Linked DNA regions of Homo sapiens. The protein of the gene in region 1 interacts with the protein of each later gene in a pairwise test. Each region holds a gene or a part of one and is shown on either strand. Other genes may lie near its edges. The genes, in order: MESD, SMARCB1, GTPBP3, ARB2A, COL1A2, CUTC and COX14.

The links.
Region 2: the proteins of MESD (region 1) and SMARCB1 interact in binary tests that used the Homo sapiens proteins (3 or more experiments, as listed by UniProt).
Region 3: the proteins of MESD (region 1) and GTPBP3 interact in binary tests that used the Homo sapiens proteins (3 or more experiments, as listed by UniProt).
Region 4: the proteins of MESD (region 1) and ARB2A interact in binary tests that used the Homo sapiens proteins (3 or more experiments, as listed by UniProt).
Region 5: the proteins of MESD (region 1) and COL1A2 interact in binary tests that used the Homo sapiens proteins (3 or more experiments, as listed by UniProt).
Region 6: the proteins of MESD (region 1) and CUTC interact in binary tests that used the Homo sapiens proteins (3 or more experiments, as listed by UniProt).
Region 7: the proteins of MESD (region 1) and COX14 interact in binary tests that used the Homo sapiens proteins (3 or more experiments, as listed by UniProt).

What each region holds. Positions count from the first base shown.
Region 1 is NC_000015.10:80,979,820-80,983,319, reverse strand, and holds part of MESD (LRP chaperone MESD precursor), read left to right. Parts: intron 1-1,137; coding exon 1,138-1,370; intron 1,371-3,500. UniProt on the Homo sapiens protein: Chaperone specifically assisting the folding of beta-propeller/EGF modules within the family of low-density lipoprotein receptors (LDLRs).
Region 2 is NC_000022.11:23,789,966-23,793,465, reverse strand, and holds part of SMARCB1 (SWI/SNF-related matrix-associated actin-dependent regulator of chromatin subfamily B member 1), read right to left. Parts: intron 1,711-3,500; coding exon 1,572-1,710; intron 1-1,571.
Region 3 is NC_000019.10:17,340,553-17,343,231, forward strand, and holds the end of GTPBP3 (5-taurinomethyluridine-[tRNA] synthase subunit GTPB3, mitochondrial), read left to right. Parts: intron 1-491; coding exon 492-770; intron 771-925; coding exon 926-1,151; 3' UTR 1,152-2,179; downstream 2,180-2,679. UniProt on the Homo sapiens protein: GTPase component of the GTPBP3-MTO1 complex that catalyzes the 5-taurinomethyluridine (taum(5)U) modification at the 34th wobble position (U34) of mitochondrial tRNAs (mt-tRNAs), which plays a role in mt-tRNA decoding and mitochondrial translation.
Region 4 is NC_000005.10:93,881,164-93,884,663, forward strand, and holds part of ARB2A (cotranscriptional regulator ARB2A isoform 1 precursor), read right to left. Parts: intron 526-3,500; coding exon 307-525; intron 1-306. UniProt on the Homo sapiens protein: Plays a role in the regulation of alternative splicing, by interacting with AGO2 and CHD7. Seems to be required for stabilizing protein-protein interactions at the chromatin-spliceosome interface. May have hydrolase activity.
Region 5 is NC_000007.14:94,422,395-94,425,894, reverse strand, and holds part of COL1A2 (collagen alpha-2(I) chain precursor), read right to left. Parts: intron 2,939-3,500; coding exon 2,777-2,938; intron 1,560-2,776; coding exon 1,452-1,559; intron 779-1,451; coding exon 671-778; intron 286-670; coding exon 232-285; intron 146-231; coding exon 38-145; intron 1-37. UniProt on the Homo sapiens protein: Type I collagen is a member of group I collagen (fibrillar forming collagen).
Region 6 is NC_000010.11:99,738,734-99,742,233, reverse strand, and holds part of CUTC (copper homeostasis protein cutC homolog), read right to left. Parts: intron 2,525-3,500; coding exon 2,465-2,524; intron 1-2,464. UniProt on the Homo sapiens protein: May play a role in copper homeostasis. Can bind one Cu(1+) per subunit.
Region 7 is NC_000012.12:50,115,236-50,118,094, reverse strand, and holds part of COX14 (cytochrome c oxidase assembly protein COX14), read right to left. Parts: intron 1-2,859. UniProt on the Homo sapiens protein: Core component of the MITRAC (mitochondrial translation regulation assembly intermediate of cytochrome c oxidase complex) complex, that regulates cytochrome c oxidase assembly.

The DNA.
Region 1 (3,500 bases):
TGGGTATACATGGAGTGCAGATTTTAAGTATACAGTGCAAAGAGGGAGTATTTCTTTTCTTTTTTTTTTTTTCTTTTAAGACAGGGTCTCGTTCTGTCTCCCAGGCTGGAATGCAGTGGCATAATTATAGCTTACTGCAGCCCTGATCTCCTGGGCTCAAGTGATCCTCGTGTCTCAGCCTCCTGAGTAGCTAGGACTACAGGCACCTGCCGCCACACCTGACTAATTTTTAAATTTTTTTTAAGAGATGGGATCTCACTATGTTGCCCAGGCTGATCTCAAATTCCTGGGCTCAAGCAATTCTCCCACCTCAGCCTACTGAGTAGCTGGGACTACAGGTGTGCCTCACTGTAGCTGGGACTACAGGTGTGCATTGCCATACCTGGCTACTTTTAAATTTTTTTTTAGAGACAGTCTTACTGTGTTGCCTAGGCTGATGTCGAACTCCTGGCCTCAAGTGATCGTTTTACCTCAGCCTCCCAAAGTGCTGGGATTACAAGGTAAGCCACAGTGCCTGGCCTGCAATAAATTTTGATAAATGGATATATCTGTGTAATCTACACCCCTGTCAAAATGTAGAACATTTTCATCACCCCAGAAAAGTTCTCTTGTGTCCATTCTCAGTTAATCCTCCCTTGTCCCCCCTTCTACAGGCAACACTGTTCTAATTTCTGTTACCCTAGATTAGTTTTGCTCATTCTTGAATTTTAAATAAACGGAATTGCATAGTAAATCTTATTTTGTATCTGGCTTCTGTCACTTAACATTTTTGGGATTTGTTAGATGTATCAGTATTTGTTCTCTGTTGCTGTGAAGTATTTCATTGTGTGACCATACCAGAATGTGGCCATTTTTACAGCCTACCATGTTGGGTAGATTGTATGAGAGTTTAAAAGCTCTAGAAACCCATCACATGGGGGCGCTCTGTGATTGGTAACCTGGGTGTGGGTAGTATGTGCTGCCTGAAACTTAGACTATCTTGAAAGTTAAGAAGAGGAAGAAAACCCCTGGTTTTCCTTTTTATGTTGTAATTTAAGTCATATACATGCACCTGACATCATGCAGAAGTTTTTGCCTGTGCCAGTTGAAAAGCAAGATTCTGATGATAGGTTTGATGCTTTTCCCCTAATCTGATAGAAAGATGATGACATTGAAGAAGGAGATCTTCCAGAGCACAAGAGACCTTCAGCACCTGTCGACTTCTCAAAGATAGACCCAAGCAAGCCTGAAAGCATATTGAAAATGACGAAAAAAGGGAAGACTCTCATGATGTTTGTCACTGTATCAGGAAGCCCTACTGAGAAGGAGACAGAGGAAATTACGAGCCTCTGGCAGGGCAGCCTTTTCAATGCCAACTATGACGTCCAGAGGTAAAGCAGCAACAACCAGCTGAGAGACTCATAGGCTGTGCTCGGTCTTTTCTTTATTATTATTATTAATTATGATGATGATGATGATTTTTTTGAGACAGAGTTTTGCTCTTGTTGCCTAGGCTGGAGTGCAGCGGCGTGATCTCGGCTCACTGCAACCTCCGCCTCCCTGGTTCAAGCGATTCTCCTGCCTCAGCCTCCCGAGTAGCTGGAACTACAGGCGCCCGCCACCATGCCTGGCTAATTTTGTATTTTTAGTAGAGACAGGGTTTCACCATGTTGGCCAGGCTGGTCTTGAATTTCTGACTTCAGGTGATGCACCCGCCTCAGCCTCCCTAAGTGCTGGGATTACAGGCGTGAGCCACCACACCTGGCCCTGTGCTGGGGCTTTTCCTGAGGCTCTTAACAGGGTGTCCTTTCTGGCCGTATTTCCCAAGGGCCTCTGCCTTTCCTTTCTAGGTTTTCTTTTAAAATTATTTATCTATCTAGTTTGTTTTTTTTTTTTTTTTTTTTGAGACGGAGTCTCACTGTGTTGCCCAGGCTGGAGTGCAGTGGCGCAGTCTCAGCTCACTGCAAGCTCCGCCTTCCCGGTTCACGCCATTCTCCTGCCTCAGCCTCCCGAGTAGCTGGGACTACAGGCACCTGCCACCACGCCCAGCTAATTTTTTGTATTTTTAATAGAGACGGGGTTTCACCGTGTTAGCCAGGATGGTCTCAATCTCCTGACCTCGTGATCTGCCTGCCTCAGCCTCCCAAAGTGCTAGGATTACAGGTGTGAGCCACTGCACTCAGCCTATCTAGATTTTTTTAATGTAAAGAAGAGCGTTGCCGGGTGCAGTGACTCACTTCTGTAATCCCAGCACTTTGGGAGGCTGAGGTGGGCGGATCACGAAGTCAGGAGATCAAGATCATCCTGGCCAACGTGGGGAAACCCTGTCTCTACTAAAAATACAGAAAAATTAGCGGGGCATGGTGATGCACGCCTGTAATCCCAGCTACTCCAGAGGCTGAGGCAGGAGAATCGCTTGAACCTGGGAGGCAGAGGTTGCAGTGAGCCGAGATTGCGTCACTGCACTCCAGCCTGGCGGCAGAGCAAGACTCCATCTCGGGGAAGAAAAAAAAAAAAAAAGGGCATTTATTGTTGGTAAAAGCAGTTAAGTTTTTGTTTTTATTTTTTGAAGAGGCGAGGTCTCACTATGTTGCCCAGGCTGATCTTGAACTGCTGGCCTCAAGTGATCCTTGCACCTCAACCTCCCAAAGTGCTAGGATTACTGTCACTGGCAACCATGCCTAGTGTGTGTTTTTTTTTAATATCTCAGTTGATCCTAAAGTTTTATTTATCTTTGGATCTTTAGCTTTTATTTCATCTGAACAGAAGGGTGTATAGCTTAGTTTAGACTCTTTGAGGGACAAAGTTAATAGTTTGACAGCTTCAGCTAGAAGTTTCTGCTCAGTGGAAAGTGCTTTGTGTGTAGCTATGTTCACACATAGAGCTTGGACCATGCTGTTAACCGATAACTAATTTAGTATGAAGAGGCTCAGTTTTCACACTTGAGTATGGTCCTGAGGTACAATTTTAAGAAATCTGCTTCTTTTTCCTCAAAAACAGTTCTGAAATTTGGGGTCTGCAAATATTCTGGTTTAGGAAATATAAAAGCAATGACAAGAAATGGGAGGAGTACTTAGAGAGTGTCCGGCCAGCAAAATATTTTCAATTAGCTTAAATAGACACCTAGACAGAACAAATAAATGTCTTGGTGATGTCTGCTCCAGAAGGCCCACTGGTCTCTGTGGAGTGGTGGGAGCATTAGAAACTGAAGGGGGAACGCGTGGTGTAGTCCCTAAGGAACAGAAGAATCTTGCCCGCTGGCCACACTAGGGCTCCACCCAGGCCTCATTCTTTCCGCTTTGTTCCTTGGGACCTTTCGAGTGTGGACGAGCTGGGCAGCTTGCTGCTAAGCTCAAGGGCTAGGATTTTTGTCCAACAACCAAGTGTCCTCTTGAGTCCTTCATAGCCTCTTATCATGACCCACTCTAAGCCATTGGTTTTCCACCTTTATCAGCAGAAGTCTTTTGTCCCATAAAAGTGTAACTGGACACTCTAGAATATAAAACAGATACAGATCAGAT
Region 2 (3,500 bases), on another chromosome or scaffold:
CGGGAGGTGGGAAAAGCAAGGTGTCAAACTTACTACTGCTGAATGCTGGCCTCTTCCAAAAGGGCAATCTGGACTGAGTGCTTTACTTACAAGTCCTGCTGGGTAGAGCCTCCAATGGGACTGATTTGGACTAATCTGCCCCAGGAGCACTGGCTCGGGGCAGAGGGAAGTGCTCAGGGCAGCACCAGCAACTACAATACAGCACGACCAGCGGGGACACTCGACTCCAGAACATATTCTCTTGGTCCTCACTCAGGGGAAAAGAAAGCTCCCAGAGTAACACCCCAGTGGGAAGAGGTCTGACACCACCACAATCCACAACACGATGCAAGGTGGGGAGATGGAATGGAAGATGAAGAATACTTTTCTTTTAAAACAAGAGCCCAGAGAGTTGGAAAGAGCTGCTTCACACCAAACACGAATTTCTATCCCCGAGCCGGTCCACACGTGCTGCCTGGGAAGCAGGACAGATTCTAGGCAGCTCGACCCCTAGCTCTTCCGGGGAATCTCCGTCAAGAGCTACCTGTCTGTGGGCCCAGTCTGGCTTCTCCTGGAGAAATCAATCGCTTATGGGGAAGGTATCTCCCAAGACTTAGCCCAGGGACTTGCGGAGGGGGAAGCAAAGCTGGGGACTCACTGTGTTAGCGACTGATGCTCTGCTAGGGGAGGAGGGGGAACAAAAAGGAAACTGTTTTAAGCAAGTGAGTGGAAATGTCATAGCAGCAGATCAAAAAGAAGCTCCGGCTCCTGCATTAAAAGAACCACTACTTTCCCGCAGTGGACAAAACCACAGCAGCACCTACAGACACAAACAAACAGGGCAGACTACGAAGCATCGCGCACATGCTCACAGACACACCCAGGCCCAGGGCAGCTCTCTACAAGGCGCCATTGCCACGTGGGAAGCAGTTTTGCCACCTGCCCAAGGACATGCTGTGTCCACACCCAAATGTCTCCATGGGAGTGTCTCCCACAGAGCCCCCAGAGTGTCTGAAGAGCACCCTTTCACCCTGCACAGAGCTGCCGTGACCCAAAGCCCACTAGTTTCACTAGTGTACCTAGCAAGCCCCAGGCACACGCAGGCCACCAGGAGCAGGGACATGCACATGGGCTCTAGCACACTGGCTGCCAGGATGAAGTGCTATGGGATGGATGTGCTCCAGGAAGCAAGCAGTGAAAGCCCCAGAGGGGAGTGGGAGCTGGGACCACCACCCGCCACTTGGGCTGCATGGAAGATGATTATGGCGACACACCCACGACAGATGGCAGAGCATCGCAGCATTCCTAAAACGTTTTGAGACCAACATGTCTTCACAGCACCTGCTAGTGTCCTGGCCCCGGCCCGCTCACATACCCAATGGCCCTGCTGGAAATAACTGACAGTGGACCACCAATGGCTCCCTGGAGCCACTTCCTTGCCTGGAGTGCTCACAGGGCGGCCCACCCCGGGATGCTCCCTGCCCGACTAAGGCCAAGGCTGCAGTGAAGACACTCTGGAGTGAAAACGTTTTATCTTCATGACATAAGCGAGTGGTTTTGAAACAGGTTTACAAACCCTCGTGAAGACGCACCCTTAGTGTTAGGTTTTGTTTTTTTACCATGTGACGATGCAACTATTTTCTTCCTCTCTTCCACAGTGGCTAGTCGCCTCCAGAGTGAGGGGTATCTCTTGTACAGAGAACCTCGGAACATACGGAGGTAGTTTCCCACCTATGAGTAAAGCAAGAAGGCTCATTATAAGGGTCGCAGCACCACAGGGAAGGGGAGGGTCCTGGCGCAGACTGCATCAAGCAACAGACAAACAGGCCTTGAGGTGGCCCCCAGGCGCCACGCTTTCGGCAGCATTAAAACACATTCTGCTGATATGAAGGGTTCACCAGCAGTGCACATCTGGCCTGCATATGTGCATCCTGACAACAGAACCAAGTTCCGAAAGGCCTGGGCAGATGCCTGAGTGGGAGGCCCCCAGAGCTTAGCAAGAAGTTCGTGGTGATTTTGATTTTGGACTAAGGATCTCTGGCACTTTCCAGAAATGCAAGGCCTCCTTGACCTTCTTTTATCTTAAGGACAAGACTTTGATATCTTTACAATGTAATAAACACCAAAAAGGTCTTTTAATTTTAGACAGATGCCAGATAATTTCCCCCATGGCCTGTGTTGCTTTGTTTAGTAACAAAACCCAAACCAGGGATACCAAAGGAATTTTCCAAAAGGTTTACAAGGCAATCACCAGACTGCTATATAAATCATCACTGACTCAAACAATGGCTTCAGTTTGCTTGTAGCAAATACTGAAAGTGTGACTTCCTTAAGGAAAATAAATCTAGACCTAAAGTTTTTATGAGGGTACCCTATTGTCTCGTTGACTTTTCAAGTATGATCACTTCGGAGTCACATTGCAGGGGATGGCCAATAGACTGGGTGCCAGGTGCTGGCTCCATCTGTAACCTGGGATCACTTCCCATTTTCTGGGTACCCTTTACTCATCTGCCAAATGCTCAGCAACTCTGAACTTCACCCCCATGAAGGACCACTTCTATTATGTTTCCCATTTTATCTACGCAACATAGTATATATTTTGCATTTTTAAATTTATTTTTAATTTTTATTATTATTTTTGAGACAGGGTCTCGCTCTGTCACCCAGGCTCGATTGCAGTGGTGCGATCGATCATAGCTCACTGCAGCCTCGAACTCCTCGGCTCAAGCGATCCTCCTGCCTCAGCCTCCTGAGTAGCTGGGACTATAGTTGCTTGCCACCACAACCGGCTAATTTTTGTATTTTTTGTAGAGACGGAGTTTCACCATGTTGCCCAGGCTGGTCTCAAACTCCTGGGCTCAAGCGATCTGCCCACCTCGGCCTCCCAAAGTGCTGGGATTACGGGTGTGAGCCACATACCCGGCCTAATTAAAAAAAATAAAAATAAAAATCTGTAGAGACAAGAGTCTCACTATGTTGCCCAGGCTGGTCTTAAACTCCTGGGTTCAAGTGATTCTCCTGCCTGGGCCTCCCAAAGTGCTAGGATTATAGGTGTGAGACCCAGGCATAGTATTAAATAAAATGTTTCTCCATTTTCAGCAGTGACTGTAATCAACAACCAGGGCTACTGAACGCTGAGAGAAGAGCAGACACAGCAAGTCACTCGCTTTCCACATAGAGGGCACAGACCCCTCTATGTTATTTGGCTTGTGTGTCAGTATCATCCAGTATCATGGTAAATGTAGAGTTTCCATTAGGTTTTTTAAAAGAAATTGACAATACTCCCCCCTATGACTACCTTGCAGGCCCTGCAGGGCTCTGAGTCTCCTAGATGCCCCCCAAAGCCCCTTCAGAACTTAGGAAACTGGGCTTGCCTTCCTGGCTTTCCTCTGAACCAGCCTTCACCCTCTTGGGACCCAGGTTTCCTGAATATAAAATCAAGGTGCTGGACTTGGGGATCTGTTAGGGTCCTCAAAGCTCCATGACTCCGGCTTGGTAAATACAGCTGTCTGTTAATGGCA
Region 3 (2,679 bases), on another chromosome or scaffold:
TGTGTCTGGTCCTTCTTGCTCTGCCCCGCCACTCATGGTCGCCCCACTCCAGTGCTGTACCCGGCCCCTTTTGCTCTGTCCCAGCCCCTGTGCTGTGCCCTGTCCCTCTTGCTCTGCTCTTCCCCCTGCACAGTGCTCTGCCCCTCTTGCTCTGCCCCGCCCTCCTGTGCTGTGCCCCGCCCCTCCTGCCCTGCCCTACTCACTGCACTGTGCCCAGCCCCTCCTGCTCTGCCCCGCTCCCGCACCGTGACCGCTCCTCTTGCTCTGCCCTTCCCCCTGCACTGTGCCCCGCCCCTCTTGCTCTGCCCCACCCCCTGTGCTCGGCTTGGGCCCCCAACATTCTGCCGGTCCCCTGGTACTCTACTCCTCCCTCCCGACCTCACGCTTCGCAGCTCCCCCAGTGCTCTGCCTGGCCCCTCTAACTGTCCCTCCACCCAGTGCCTTCAATTGCTCAACCTGGGATCCCCGCTCAGTTGACCTTGCTCCCGCAGGCTAGAGCAGGCTGACCTCATTCTGGCCATGCTGGATGCTTCTGACCTGGCCTCTCCCTCCAGTTGCAACTTCCTGGCCACCGTCGTAGCCTCTGTGGGAGCCCAGAGCCCCAGTGACAGCAGCCAGCGCCTCCTCCTGGTGCTGAACAAGTCGGACCTGCTGTCCCCGGAGGGCCCAGGTCCCGGTCCTGACCTGCCCCCGCACCTGCTGCTGTCCTGTCTGACGGGAGAGGGGCTGGACGGCCTCCTGGAGGCGCTGAGGAAGGAGCTAGCTGCAGTGTGAGCCCCCTCCCACTCCCAGCCTCCCCTGACCCACAGTTTAAGTGTGGGTCCCTCAACTTCAATTTCTGAACCTACAAAATGGGTACAACCATTTCCCCTTCAAGGGATGGTTGTAAAAGGTCGGGAGAGACCATGTCTCTTGTCTCTTCCAGGTGTGGGGACCCGTCCACAGATCCCCCGCTGCTGACCCGAGCAAGGCACCAGCACCACCTCCAGGGTTGCCTGGATGCCCTCGGCCACTACAAGCAGTCAAAAGACCTGGCCCTGGCGGCAGAGGCGCTGCGGGTGGCCCGGGGTCACCTGACCCGGCTCACAGGTGGAGGGGGTACCGAGGAGATCCTGGACATCATCTTCCAGGACTTCTGTGTGGGCAAGTGACGGGATCCAGGGAAGTCGCACCCAAGCTGCGTGGAGACCCAGGAGCCTCGGGGGATCTGGAAACAGTTTAGGCCAATTGGGATTCTCATTCGCCTGGGAAAGAACTTGATTCTCAAATAGTGAAGCAACACAGCTGAGAGGTAGTGAGATCCCTGCAGGGACTCCCTGGAGATTCAGGCCCTGGAATGGGGCTGAATGGAGGTCCCGTTCGACCCTTGATGCTGGGGCATCCGGGTTGGGATGGAGATAGGAGGATCTCAGTATATTTGTTTCGTAGTTTTTTATTTATTTTGCAAATACCAAAGGAATGTAAAAAAAACTCAGGTGATCTAGAAGTGTTTATTTTCTTCCCTTCCCTTCCCTTCCCTTTCCTTTTCCCTTTCCCTTTCCCCTTCCCCTTCCCCTTCCCCTTCCCCTACCCTTCCCTCCTCTGTCTATTGCCCAGGCTGGAGTGCAGTGGTGCGACCTTGGCTCACTGCAACCTCCATCTCCGGGGCTCAAGCGCTTCTCCTGCCTCAGCCTCCTGAGTAGCTGGGATTACAGGCATGTGCCAGCATGCCCGGCTAATTTTTTTCTTTTTTTGAGACAGAGTCTCGCTCTGTCACCCAGGCTGGAGTTCAGTGGTGCGACCTCGGCTTACTGCAACCTCCACCTCCCGGGTTCAAGTGATTCTCCTGCCTCAGCCTCTTGAGTAGCTGGGACTACAGGCGCACACCACCACGCCAGGCTAATTTTTGTATTTTTAGTAGAGACAAGGTTTCACCATGTTGACCAGGCTGGTCTTGAACTCCTTGACCTCAGGTAATCTGCCTACCTTGGCCTCCCAAAGTGCTGGGATCACAGGCGTGAGCTATCACACCTGGCCCCAGAAGTGTTTCAACATGGAAATTTTCCTTAGCCCTTCTGTGGTTGTCATGGCTTAATGTGTGTCTTTCCAGAACTTTGAATGTTTGCATACTTGTGGATGTACCTTTCAAATATGTTTGTCTTGTGTATCATATATAAATGGTATTGTGTTCATTGCTCTACAAATTGTCATTTCTTTTTAAAAAAAAAACAGAATTATGGAGATGGGGGGTCTCACTATGTTGCCCAGGCTGGTCTTGAGCTCTTGGACTCAAGCCATCCTGCTGTCTTGGCCTCCCAAAGTGCTGGGATTACAGGTGTGAGCCACGGTGCCTGGCCTCATTCCTTTTTTAGTCTTTAGTCTTCTTTTTTTTTTTTTTTTTTTTTGATGGGGTTTCACTGTGTTAGCCAGGCTGGTCTTGATCTCCTGACCTTGTGATCTGCCCACCTGTGGCCTCCCAAAGTGTGTGTGTGTGTGTGTGTGTGTGTGTGTGTGTGTGTGTGTGTGTGACAGAGTCTTGCTCTGTTGCCCAGACTGAAGTGCAGTGGTGTGATCTCAGCTCACTGCAGCCTCTGCCTCCTGAGCTCAAGCCATTCTCGTGCCTCAGCCTCCCGAGCAGCTGGGATCATAGGTGTACCCTACCACACCTGGCTAACTTTTGTATTTTTAGTAGAGATGGGT
Region 4 (3,500 bases), on another chromosome or scaffold:
AAGTTTTCTGCCTTCTGCATCCATCACAATAAAATTATTTTAGAAAATTTTTCTTGAGGTAGTATATGACACAAAAGGAAACAGAATTTGCATTTGTGACTTCTATAAAATGTCACACTGAAATAAGAATGATGCGTTTTGTAATTCTGAATTTAAAAACCCATTTAATCCAAGTAGACGACTATGGGAAATAAATGATGACAAATAAAAAAATTAATATTCTTGAAGAAAAACAAAACAATCTACATATAATAAAATATATACAAGGTAAAGAAAATAGTAAAGGAAAGTAGTGATCTCACTCACTCTGATATACAATTGCATCATTTCTTTTTCTCTTTGGGGGTTACGATACTTCTCATAGAAATCACGTCGCTTCTTTGTTTCTTTAGAAACTTTATCTTTTCTTTCCCGTTTTTCTGCTGGTTCATCTGAACTATCAGATGATGACTGTACGTGTATCTTCGGCTTTTCTACTTCAATATAGTTTTCATTGGGATTTAGTACTATTACTCCATATCCTTCCTGTTTTGAAATGAAAGAAGGTAGCATAATTTAAATCTTATAATCCATTTCAATTTTCAAAAAAGTTCTTAAAATTTCAGTCTAAGCAATTTTTATATAGTTGCATATTCATTAAAATACTCCTTTAGGCAAGATAATGATTTTATTTTTTTCAAAAGAAAGTCATTTAAAATTGTTTGCCTTTATTGTGTATATAAATAAGCTTTTATTATTTATAAGAACAAAAAATATAATTGCAACATAAAGATTATAAAGCTTAAATTAAAAAACTAATTCAGATATCTCAGAACCCAAAAATGACTGAAATAAATTAGCAAATAATTTATTTTCAAGTAAACTTTCAAATTATATTAATATTTATACTATCTGTTTTGAGAAAACAACCTCTGAAATCAAAGTTTACAATTCAAACTACATTTTTTTGTATATTTTTCTTTACAATGGCCCTTTCAAGAGCATTTTTTATTTGTCTGAACAATTAAAAAGAATAAGCAGTTAAAAAAGAATAAATCTGATTTAACATTACAAAACCATCCATACCTACATTATTATAAAGACATAACATCTACTTGTGTACCTTGAATTTTATTCACTTTGTTTCTCACAGGAGGCCAGAAAAATCATGTAGCAAAATAAGCCACTGTCTTACTATAATGTATGGAAGCAAGTCTTTAATCTTAAAATTTCTTTCATTTTTCAACCTACCATAAAAATTCTCTTTATTAAAAACTATAATCAGGAAATAAGCAAGGTTCCAAAGTTAAAAAATACAGCTTGTTGAGCTATTAAGGCTTTTTTTTTTTTAAATTTGTAAAACATGTTTTCCTGTCTCATTTCTTTCTAGCCTGGCAAACATTTCTGTGGTTATAATTAAGAAAACGTTTGATATTTATATTATGTCTAATGGAATAAGCTAACCATGAGAAAATATAGAGAGGGATAAACAATAACCATTGACAAGCATGGGTAACACAAATTTTTGAAGCTATTATATATCTTGTCTTTTCTATTCAGTTATGTGTTGTGAGGTTCCAATTATGTCCTTGTAAAATACTATAAGGTCATATTTAAAAGATGTATGATATTATAATAAAAACATAAGAGCTACAGAAAATAGCTCACAAAATCTATTTATTAGAAAATCTATTTAATAGAAAATAAAACTTATAAAATCTCATCCTTACTTAAAATAGGTAGTATATATAGTTTTTCAAGACAGTAACTGTAGAATCTTCTACTTGAAGTTTAAATTTTAAATTTTTTGCCAAACCAACCATAAGATGATTTTAAAAAATTGACAGCAGTAATAGTAAACCAGTAATAGCACAGACTCAATTATCTTATTTTAAAATATGCTGCATTACTGCACATGGTTGGTTTTTTTAAACAGTTGATTTCACAAACTACTTACAAACTTCTTTGGAATTGTTTTCTATTTTTTCCTCCATCAGATGATATTATTGTCTAAAACGATTATTTAGTTTGGAAATTTTCAAGATCACTGAAGTTCTGATTTTAATGATAGGACTATTAATTAAGATACAGTCATCTTACATATATGGAAACTATATAATAATATATAGCAAACTGATTTACAAACCACCACCCATTCTTCAACAGATGTTCAAATAAAGCTTTTAGAATAATGCTTCTTTCACAAAAAGCTTATAAAACACTTTACACATTCTGTAATTTAAACTTTCTACATCAAAGCAAAAGAGAATTTTTTTTAAAGTTTCTTAGCTCTAAGTCAAAAGTTTTACCAACAAAAGATATTTTATTTGGTCCTGCTTTATTCTAATCTGTATAGCTATTCAAAAGTCTTGTAATTCATTGTGATCACTGTCAGGTAGACAGATTGTCACTTGGTGATTTTCTACAGTTGGACACACTTGACTAGTTATTAAAATCACATTTGAAGGAAGTTCCTACCCCTCTTCCTTGTGCCTCTTACAACTTTTCACGCCCTTCTCAAATTTCAGCTATAACTTCTCCTCCCACCAAAAGTAAGTTAAAGAACACTGTTGCACTCTGCTAAACAGGGTGAAATAGAGGCATTCAGTACACTGTCTCTGGTGTAAGGAACATAGTCAAAAAAGGTCACCATAGGCCAAAAAGAAAATTGCCTCCCTACTAGATTCTGTACCGTGAGTAAGTGGTCTCCTGTCATGTTTCTTCCTTGCCTTCTCTGAGTGAATTGAACTTTAAACACACATACACACATACACATACACATACACACACACACACACACACACACACACACACACACACACACCACCCTCTCATACTCAGGAGTTAAAATTAGCAAGACCAAAATAGAATCTTAAAATTAGTAGAGATGAAAATAGTGATATACTACATTTTAATGATAATATGAAAAATTTCAAATTCAAAAACTTCACTCAAGGTAAAAGAGTGGGACTTTAATAAGCTGAAATAACATGGCATCATCTTTGTATAATGAATAAATCTCAAATAAAGGTAAACTCTTTGAACAAAATTTACAGTCACCAGAATTGTAAGACTATTATCTTATTACTTAATCAAAAAAATAATATTTTCATATCTGGCTTATTTGAGCAGAACTTTAAACTTCAATTTTTAGAAATCATAGATTGAAAAATTATCGTGCCTACTTAATTTGAAATAAGACTCTGAAATTTGATATGTTCCATGTAAATAAGTATTTTAAAAAAGGCATTTATATATCATCAAAGAAGCAGTATTTGTCTAAGTAACTGAAAATTACATGACTCATCTGTTCAATATCATAAAGGCACAATGTCAATGTTTCCCTTAGGCATCAACAGATGAGAAATGATTCTATTTTTAAATCACCACTATATAAATCAATTGAAGATTTGTTATCATTTAGATTTCAACAATGGATGCTTCTATTTAAACACCCAAACTATTTAGAAAATATTTTATCCTTTAGATATTTCAGATTGCCAATTTAATTAATGTGACAA
Region 5 (3,500 bases), on another chromosome or scaffold:
GAATGCTGCACTGAGGGACTGGTATTCACAAACTTACAGTTTCACCACGGTTTCCATGTTTGCCAGCAGGACCCACGGGGCCATGAGGACCAGGTGCACCTGCAGCACCAACGGGACCAATATTGCCAGGGTAACCGCGCTCTCCCTACCAAAGGCAAAATGAAGCTTAGCATCAATCTGGGTTGCATTTTAATCACTTTTGAATTAGAGAAAGATGAAAAGTGTACTGACCTTGTGTCCGGGTTGACCATCGCGACCTGGGGGACCATCGTTCCCAGGGTTGCCCTGTGAAGACACCACACAAATTAAGGCTGTTGGTGAGGCTCTGCTGCCTACCAGCCCCTATGTTGTAGCTACTCTGTCTTCATCACTTCCAGTGCTCAGTAACGAACCCTCTTTCAGACTGTTAAAACTAGGGATAAAAACCTGCCAACCTAGATATTTTTTAGAGATGTTTTAAATACTTGGGCCCAGTTTTGCAGTGTGCTATTGAAAAGCCCATTCTTTGGCCTAAGCAATTTTCATATTTTCAGTACTAGGTGTAGATACTATGGAGAAGCTGACCATCTTGTTCAGAAATTTGGAAGAAGAGAACCTCAGCTCAGGACATAAAGTTTCACACAATGAAATCCTGCTCAGTTTTATTTTACAAACCAAGTGTTGGACTCACATCACGACCAGCTTCACCAGGAGCACCGTTGACTCCAGGACTACCCACAGCACCAGGAGGACCACGGGCCCCAGGAGGGCCGGCAATGCCAAGAGGACCAGGTTCACCCTAAACAGGCAGAGAAGATAAAATGACATTCCCCTTATTCGATGGAATGCTAACCTTCCCCTCCAAAACAACCCTACTCAGGAGATTCTAGTTTGAAGGAAGAAGGTAAATTGAATGTGAATGGGTCACACAATGGTAAGAAGTATCATTAGTATCATCTCTGCCCTCCTTCTCCACATGTAGATGGCCAGCTTTATGTAATCACGGGATGTTGCTCTGTAAAAAGTGAGCCTCGTGTCATTCAGTATCCCAAATGAAATGAATTCAAAAAGTTGATATATTTTATGGAGATGAGATGGTTTCTAGTTGTTGTCACGTATAAGGTTTAATGGAACGATTCAGAACTTCCAGAGTTTCATTCTTCCTACAGGATAAATGATGCCAGCATTTCATATTGCAGAGGAGTAAACGCAATTAGAGATTGTATCATTCCTAAGTGCGTGGAAAGAACAAAAATCATTCTGCATAATTTTAAGCTGTGTCTTTATAGTGTGTGTCTAAGTAAGGTGGTATTAAAGCTTCTTAGATAAGTGACATGTGATCTGTATAAAGAAAATGCCATGAATAAAAATCTTAAGTGAAGTTATTCAGTGATCAATCTGTCACATTTGAAGTGGCAGCTTTTAAAATCTTTTCTTATGTTAATGGAGTCAGAATACTGTCAAGCACTCACCACAGCACCAGCAACACCTGGTAGACCACGTTCACCTCTCGAGCCAGGGAGACCCAGAATACCAGGAGCACCAAGAAGACCCTGAGGACCTGGAGTGCCAGGAGGTCCCTAAATAGAGAAAAAATACTGAGTATTATGGGTAAGACCCTAGGTGATAACACAGGTTGGCTTGAAGATTGTGAGAATAAACTGTCTTCAGCTTAGAAAAAGGCTAATGACCTCCTATTACTAGGACATATCCTTGGATATCTTTTCTCTAGTGATGACGGTGAGTTTACATCTTGGCATGAATACTTTTGTATCTGATTCATCCTTGAGACCAATGGCACAACATTTAAAAATATGTGGTTGAGATTTATAAAGACACTTGGGGTGGTGAAATAGAGTTTTTATAGCCTCTAGGCAGGGAAACAAATAAAAAAATTTAAATTGTTATGGATACATAATAGTTGTACATAGTAGGAGGGGTTCCTCAAAAAACTAAAAATAGAACTACCATAAGATCCAGCAATCACACTGCTGGGTATATACACAAAGGAAAGGAAATCAGGCTGGGTGGGGTGGCTCACATGTGTAATCCCAGCACTTTAGGAGGTCAAGGTGGGTGGATCACCTGAGGTCAGGAGATCGAGACCAGCCTGACCAATATGGTGAAACCCCGTCTTTACTAAAAATACAAAAATTAGCTAGGCATGATGGTGTGTGCCTGTAGTCCCAGCTACTCGGGAGGCTGAGACAAGATAATTACTTAAACTGGGGAGGCGGAAGTCGCAGTGAGCTGAGATCGTGCCACTGCACTCCAGCCTGGGCAACAGAGGGGAACTCCATCCCAAAACAAAAAAACAAAAACAAAAACAAAAAACAAAAACAAAAAGGAAATCAGTAAAATCAGTATATCAAAAGGAAGCAAATTTTGACTTTGGCCTCTAAGGTCTAATAGGGGCACCTTTCAGAGTAGCACTAATACTGGACAGTGTATGTTTAAGAAATTGGTAGCCTACTGAGATTGATTAATATGTAGTAGGATGGCCACAGCAATGGGACTCTGTTCTAATCCTGGTACCAGTAAGGTGCCTTCAATAGCTTTAAGGGCTTTGTGATAAAACTGAGTTCCCTCATTTATTGTCTTCCCGATTTTGTGCTTTCTGAGCATCTTGGAAGCCACAGCCCCTCAGTGTGTGCTGGACAGATTTCCTGGCTCAACTGAGCTCTACTTGAGAGCCTGCAATACTCATCAACAAATAGATGCCACTTGAAGATTTGTGTAGGGGCTTTATTTTAATTCAGCATAAGGTATTAAGAAAGAGGAGTTGGAAATCACTTACAGCAGTACCAGCCTCTCCAGAGGGACCCTTCTCACCAGCGAAGCCAGGGGGACCAACTGCACCTACTTCTCCAGTTCGGCCAACTGGACCTTGGTCACCACGAGGACCACGAAGCCCTTCTTTCCCAGCAGGACCAGGGGGACCAGGAGGGCCAGAAATACCCTATGAGCAAATGTACAAGGTCATTTCCTTTCTGTTAATCACCAAGGGCCTGGAAGAGAGCAGCAAAGATTCTAGATCTTAAGATGCAAACAATGTGATGCAATAAAATAATACCCTGGCCATTTGGGGGAAATATTTATAGTTTTTAACCTTCTTTCTTGCAGAAAGAAGCAACTCCTGTCTTCCTTTATGAGGCTGTAACCAACCAAATAATGGAGGAGAGACTATGGCAAATTTCTATGAGGAAAAACAATGTCATGCCACTGGTACCCTGGCATATTGGAATCAGAACTATGTAGAATGATAGGAGTTAATGATAAATGAATGGGACTCTGAGTTTCGAAGGACTTTGCCTTTTCTTTTTTCTTCTTTTTTTTTTTTTTTAAAGAAAGCCAATATACGTGTTTTGTTCATAATTGAGGAATCCCACACACTTCTCAACTAGGTTTAATTAAATGCCTACAGGGAATGAAGATTTTTCTGTTATGAACCTGTAAAAGGATTCCAAGAAATCAACATCTTTGCTATTTTTTTTTCCCAGAAACCTTAACCAGAAGACTTA
Region 6 (3,500 bases), on another chromosome or scaffold:
CCCACCTATAATAATAATAATAATAAAAAAACAGACAAAATATATGAAACAGTGGTTTGCAAGACACTGGACATTAAGCAGTGAAGGGCAATGATCCTTGAAAATGGTAAACAATGAAGTTAGTAAGTCAATTCTGATTGACCCAATTTACTGCCTTGAGAGTTTCTAGGCCAAAGCACAGGGATGGGGGACCCACATGGAGCCAAAACAATTCCCTGAGTTAAGGAGACAAAGCTTAGAGTTCAGGAAGACTGAAGTAGCTAGAGTTTATAGGAGACAGTACAGGGAGGACAGAAAGATAACACTGGAGTAGCAAAGACTATCTCAATGGTTTAAAAAAAGGATTTTTTTTAAAAAAGATAGGCTTGGTACGGTGGCTCATGCCTGTAATCCCAGTGCTTTGGGAGGCTGAGATGGGTGGATTGCCTGAGGCAAGGAGTTCAAGACCAGTCTGGGTAAAATGGTGAGACTCCATCTCTACCAAACAAACAAACAAACAAATGTAGCTGGACATGGTGGCATATGCCTGTAATCCTAGCTACTTGAGAGGCTGAGGCAGGACAATTGCTTGAGCCCAGGAGTTTGAGGCTGTAGGGAGCTATGGTCACACCACTTCAGTCAAGCCTGGACAACAGGTGAGACCCTGTCAAAAGAAAAAAAGGAAGGAAGGAAAGCAAAGAGAGAGAAAAGGAGAAGGAAAGAAAAGAAAGGAAAGGAAGGAATGAAAGAAGAAAGGAAGACAGATAACTCTGGAGGTCTGCAGAGAACCTCCTTTAATATTCAGCTGAGTACTGACCGGTGCATGCATGCAAAGAAACTACGCAAGGCCTGGGACAGAACCAATAAAAAGGATTAGAAATAATGTGCCTGTCATTCATACCAAGCTGTGAATAATGCCTATTCCACCAGCCAGACAGGAAAATTTCAAAATTCATGGTCACAGGGTAGAGTTCACAGAAGAATCCTGACTCAGTAGTAAGGAATAATTAGCTCTGTATTAACCACTGCTCCAGACTTGCCCAGCAAATCTTAAAAGCAAGACCCAAAAGGACCAAACTGTTTTGGAACATTTGTAGGAATTCAAAAATGTCTAGTAACCAATAAAGTAAAATTCACAATGTCTTGCATCCAATAAAAAATTACAAGGCAGGAAAATAAGATATATTATTAGATGATAAATCAAATGAAACAAACCCAGAACTGATATAGATGTTAGAATTCGCAGACAAGGTCATTATAACAGCTATCATAACTTTATTCCACATGTTCAAAAAAGTTAAGAGACATCAGAGACATAAAAAGACTCAAATTTCTACAGATGAAGACTACAATGTATGAGATGAAAACATACCAGGAGAGACTAATAGCAGATTAGATAGTGCAGAAGAAAAGGTCAGTAAGCTCAAGGACAAAACAATAGCAACTATGCAAAATGAAAACACAGAAAGGAGATTTTCTTTTAAATAGAGAAGTTCATCAGTGACTTTTGGGACAATTTCAAGTAGTCTAATGTAAGAATAGCTTAAGTCTCTAAAGGAGGGAGTGGAGAACAAGCTGCAAGCTGAAAATTTTCCAAATGTGATGAGAAGTATAAATGCACAGGTCCAAGAAACATGAAAAAACTATACTCAGGTACACCATAAGAAAATTGTTCAAAACCAATAATAAAAAAATCTTAAAAGTAGGTAGAAAAAAGAGACATATTACATAGAGAAAAACAAAGATATGGATGATAGCTTTTTGTCAGAAACAATACAAGCAAGACGACAATGGAAAAACATCTTCAAAGAAAAAAAAAACCTGTCAACCTAGAATTCTATACCCAGCAAAAATACCTTTCAAAAATGAAGGAAAAAGCTATTTTAGACATATAAAAGCTGAAGGAATGAATCACTAGCATACTTTTTAACAAAAAAAGTTAAAGAAAGTACTTCAGGCAGAATGAAAATGAAACCAGACAGAAATACGGGATCTACACAAAGGAATAAAGAACACCAGAAATGGTAGTTGCATGTGGGTAAATATATGATTTTTTTCTTATTATTTAAATCTCTTATTTAACAAAAGATAATTGACTCTTCAAACAAAACTAACAATACAGCATGGAGTTTTTGATATATGTATGAGTAAAATATATGACAACAATAGCACAAAGACCAGGAGGGGATTTCAATATACTAAGGATGCCAGCATGGAAAGATTTTATAAAAGCCTAATCCTTGATGTTACTACAGAGCAGCTGAACCGGTATTAACAATTACCTACCTACCTTTCAACTTTTTGATGTGAGAAAGAAATATGTTTGATCAAATCTTTGATTTTTTTACAATCATAAACATTTCTGATACAACATCCATAACATAGTTAACATGACATTAGTAAAGGACCCCAACGAAACTGATTATCAGTTGCTTCCAGGCTCTATGAACTCCAATCAGAAAACCTGGGAAAAATGGACACTTACCCATGCTGGGTGTAGTTCCCCCCTCTGATAAACCAGAACATAATTCAATCCGATCAGCACCTGTAATATAAAAGCATTGCTCAACACATTTTTAAAAAATAAGCTGTTATTAAACAGCAACCTGTTTATATATATTTTTTCCAAATATAGAACAGTCTTAGAAATCATCTCAGAGAAATCAAATTATAAAGCTAGAGTAAAACTCTGTTTTTAACTCAGCTATACTCTGCAGCCCACATTGTGTTACTCATACTCAAATTTAAAAATTAATTAAAGTTAAGCTAGTTCTCTTAAATTTTTGTATTATAGGGTTGCCTCTCTATGTACAGGAAAGTAACATAGAATAAAGATGTTTCTTAAAACTGACTATAGTGGAATACTGAGTCTTTGTTGATAAGAAAATAACATAATATTTCCCAAAAGGGTCTTTATTATTCTAAGCTTTAAAAAACACAAAGCTACTTTTGAGTAGCTAAACCAAGATAATTTCAAGAATAAGAAAATGCTGAAACCAAAAGAATTATTAGGCTACCAAGGTCACATCAAAAGATCTCAGGAACCAGTTTGAAGAAGCTCTCACTAGCCAAAGATAGAACATTTTGTTCATCAATAAGCAGAATAACTACAATGGATTAAAACACACAAAATATATCTAAATCTACATTCATAATGACAAAACAATTCAAGGGAAGACAGAGAACAAATTCATTATTCTAAAAAGTATTATAATAAATAAGGGAAAATAAGCAAGCATTTATTCTGCCTTTCTTATACAAACCATACTTCAGCATAACCAAACAGAGGATGAGGGAAAGTTCTTTACAGAACTATTCTAGTTCATAAGTGAAAAATAAATGTCACCATTTTGCAACCCCTACTAAAATATGGGTTGCTAAATTTATTAGGTGAAAAGCTGACAGAAAACCTTAAGGATAGATTAGGCTGGCAATACCTGAACTCCCTGTTCAATCTTAATATCACAAAAACAGAAAAAAACCAACATGTTATGTCCTCCTGATGTGATGCAACAGGAAGT
Region 7 (2,859 bases), on another chromosome or scaffold:
AGCCTGGATGACGGGGAGTGAGACTCCATCTCAAAAAAAAAAAAAGGGGGGGTGCCAGGTATGGTGGCTCACGCCTGTAATCCCAGCACTCTGGGAGGCTGAGGCAGGTGGATCACGAGGTCAAGAGATCGAGACCATCCTGGCCAACATGGTGAAACCCTGTCTCTACTAAAAATACAAAAAATTAGCTGGGCATGGCAGTGCGCGCCTGTAGTCCCAGCTACTCAGGAGGCTGAGGCAGGAGAATCACTTGAACCCGGAGGCGGAGGCTGCAGTGAGCTGAGATCGTGCCACTGCACTCCAGCCTGGTGACAGAGCAAGACTCCATCTCAAAAAAAAAAAAAAAAAAATTAGCCCAGCGTGGTGGTGCATGCCTGCGTCCCTGCTACTCGGAGGCTGAGACAGGAGAATTGCTTGAATCCCAGAGGCAGAGGTTGCAGTTGAGCCGAGATCGCATCATTGCACTCCAACCTGGGCAACAGAGTGAGACACCGTCTCAAAAAAAAAAAAAAAGAGACAGAAAAAGAGTGCCAGGGTGGAAGCCAAGAGGGGAATGTCTCAAGGACCTTTGGACCCAGTCCTGAGGAGCCTTGAGAGAACTGGGCCCAATAAGCCTGCCAGTGAGGCCTAAGAGGGCCCTATTTTTAGTTTTTGGCAGCTTGCTCTCCACTTAATGGCTCTCAGCACTGTAGGCAGAGACACTTAAAATCCCGCCCCTTACCATGGCCACGCACACACACACACCAAAGCATACACACAAACAACAAAGTCAAGAACCTAGGCAGGGCATGGTGGCTCACACTTGTAATCCCATGCTTTGGGAGGCCGAGTCAGGAGGATCACTTGAGGCCAGGAGTTTGAGACCAGCCTGGGCAACATAGTGAGACCCTGTCCCCACAAAAAAAATTTTTTTTTAAATTAGCCACGCATGGTGGCATATGGCTGTAGTCCCAGCTACTCAGGAGGCTGAGGTGGGAGGATTGCTTGAGCCCAGGAGGTTGAGGCTACAGTGAGCTGAGATCGTACCACTGCACTACAGCTTGGGTGACAGAGTGAGACCCTGTCTCAAAAAACAAAAAAAAATTGAAAGTAAAGCTCAGGATTCGCTGGTTTAGAGGGGTCAGACATGGGTACAGACATGTAAATACTTCTCAGAGTAAACCCTAAGGGCTGAACATTGCCTTTGAGGCAGGTCTTGAGTGTGGACCCCAAGCTGAGCTGAGACACAGCTTCTTTGAAATATAATCCCACTATGGAAAGTGATATTAAGTAAGGTCAGAGGAAGAATACTAAGTGACACAAGTTCAAGATGAGAAAGGATTGTGTTCAGGTTTGAAATCTGAGGTTTGAAATGGCCCCAAGCTGTGCATGCAATAGTGAACAAAACACACACCCATGGAGCTGAACGCTAAGCCGCCTGCAAAGAGCCCTGCAGCCTTCAACTTCCCTGTCACTTATTGCTATTCCTACTCATCACCCTAGCTAGATGCTTAACAATTATAGGACCACCTCTTCCAAGGGCTGGAGGAAAAGAGCTGGAAGCATTCACCAACCAACAAAAACAGGATGGTACAGCTTGGCTAGAAAAGTGACATAAAACCAACTAACAGACATAATCCTGCTGTCTAGAACCTTACCTTCCCTCTCTTGTCTTAATCCATCCTGTGGTTTTCCCTAATATCCAATTAGCAAAAACTCTTCAGGCCGGGCGCAGTGGCTCACGCCTATAATCCCAACAGTTTGGGAGGCTGAGTCGGGCAGATCACCTGAGGTCAGGAGTTCGAGACCAGCCTGGCCAACATGGCAAAACCCTGTCTCTACTAAAAATACAAAAATTAGCCAGGCGTGGTGGCGGATGCCTGTAGCCCCAGCTACTCAGGAGGCTGAGGCAAGAGAATCACTTGAACCTGGGAGGCAGAGGTTGCAGTGAGCCAAGAGAGTGCCACGGCACTCCAGCATGGGGGACAGAGCAAGACTCTGTCTCAAAAAAAAAAAAAAAAACTCTTCAGATTCTGAGCTAAAGCAGTGGTAGCAGTAGAAGTGGAAAGAACAGATGCAGAAGATACTTTGGAAGTAGAAAAGGATTTATCAATGGAGCGAATTAGGGCAAAGCTGAAAATATTAATACCTCCAAGTTAGGAAACTTTGTAGACTGGGATACTGTTAACAGAAATAAGAAACAAGAGAAGAGGTATGTATCACTGTATATACAGGGTGGTGACAGTGTCCATCAAGAAGATCACGTGGCCGGTGCAGTGGCTCACACCTGTAATGCCAGCACTTTGGGAGGCAAAGACAGACGGATCGTTGAGCCCACGAGTTTGAGACCAGCCTGGGCAACATGGTGAAACCCTGTCTCTACAAAAAATACAAAAATTAGTGGGGCGTAGTGGCATGCACCTGTAGTCCCAGCTACTCAAGAGGCTGAGGTTGGAGGATCGCTTGAGCCCAGGAGGTAGAGGTGCAGTGGGCCGAGATCATGCCATTACACTGCAGCCTGGGTGACAGGGAGACCCTGTCTCAAAAAAAAAAAAAGGAGGATCATGAGCTGGGCTTGAACACGTTAAAATGAAGATGCTCGGCCGGGCGCGGTGGCTCAAGCCTGTAATCCCAGCACTTTGGGAGGCCAAGGCGGGTGGATCACGAGGTCAGGAGATCGAGACCATCCTGGCTAACACGGTGAAACCCCGTCTCTAGTAAAAATACAAAAAAATTAGCCGGGCATGGTGGCGGGTGCCTGTAGTCCCAGCTACTCAGGAGGCTGAGGCAGGAGAATGGCATGAACCCGGGAGGCGGAGCTCGCAGTGAGCAGAGATCGCGCCACTGCACTCCAGCCTGGGCAACAAAACCAGACTCCGT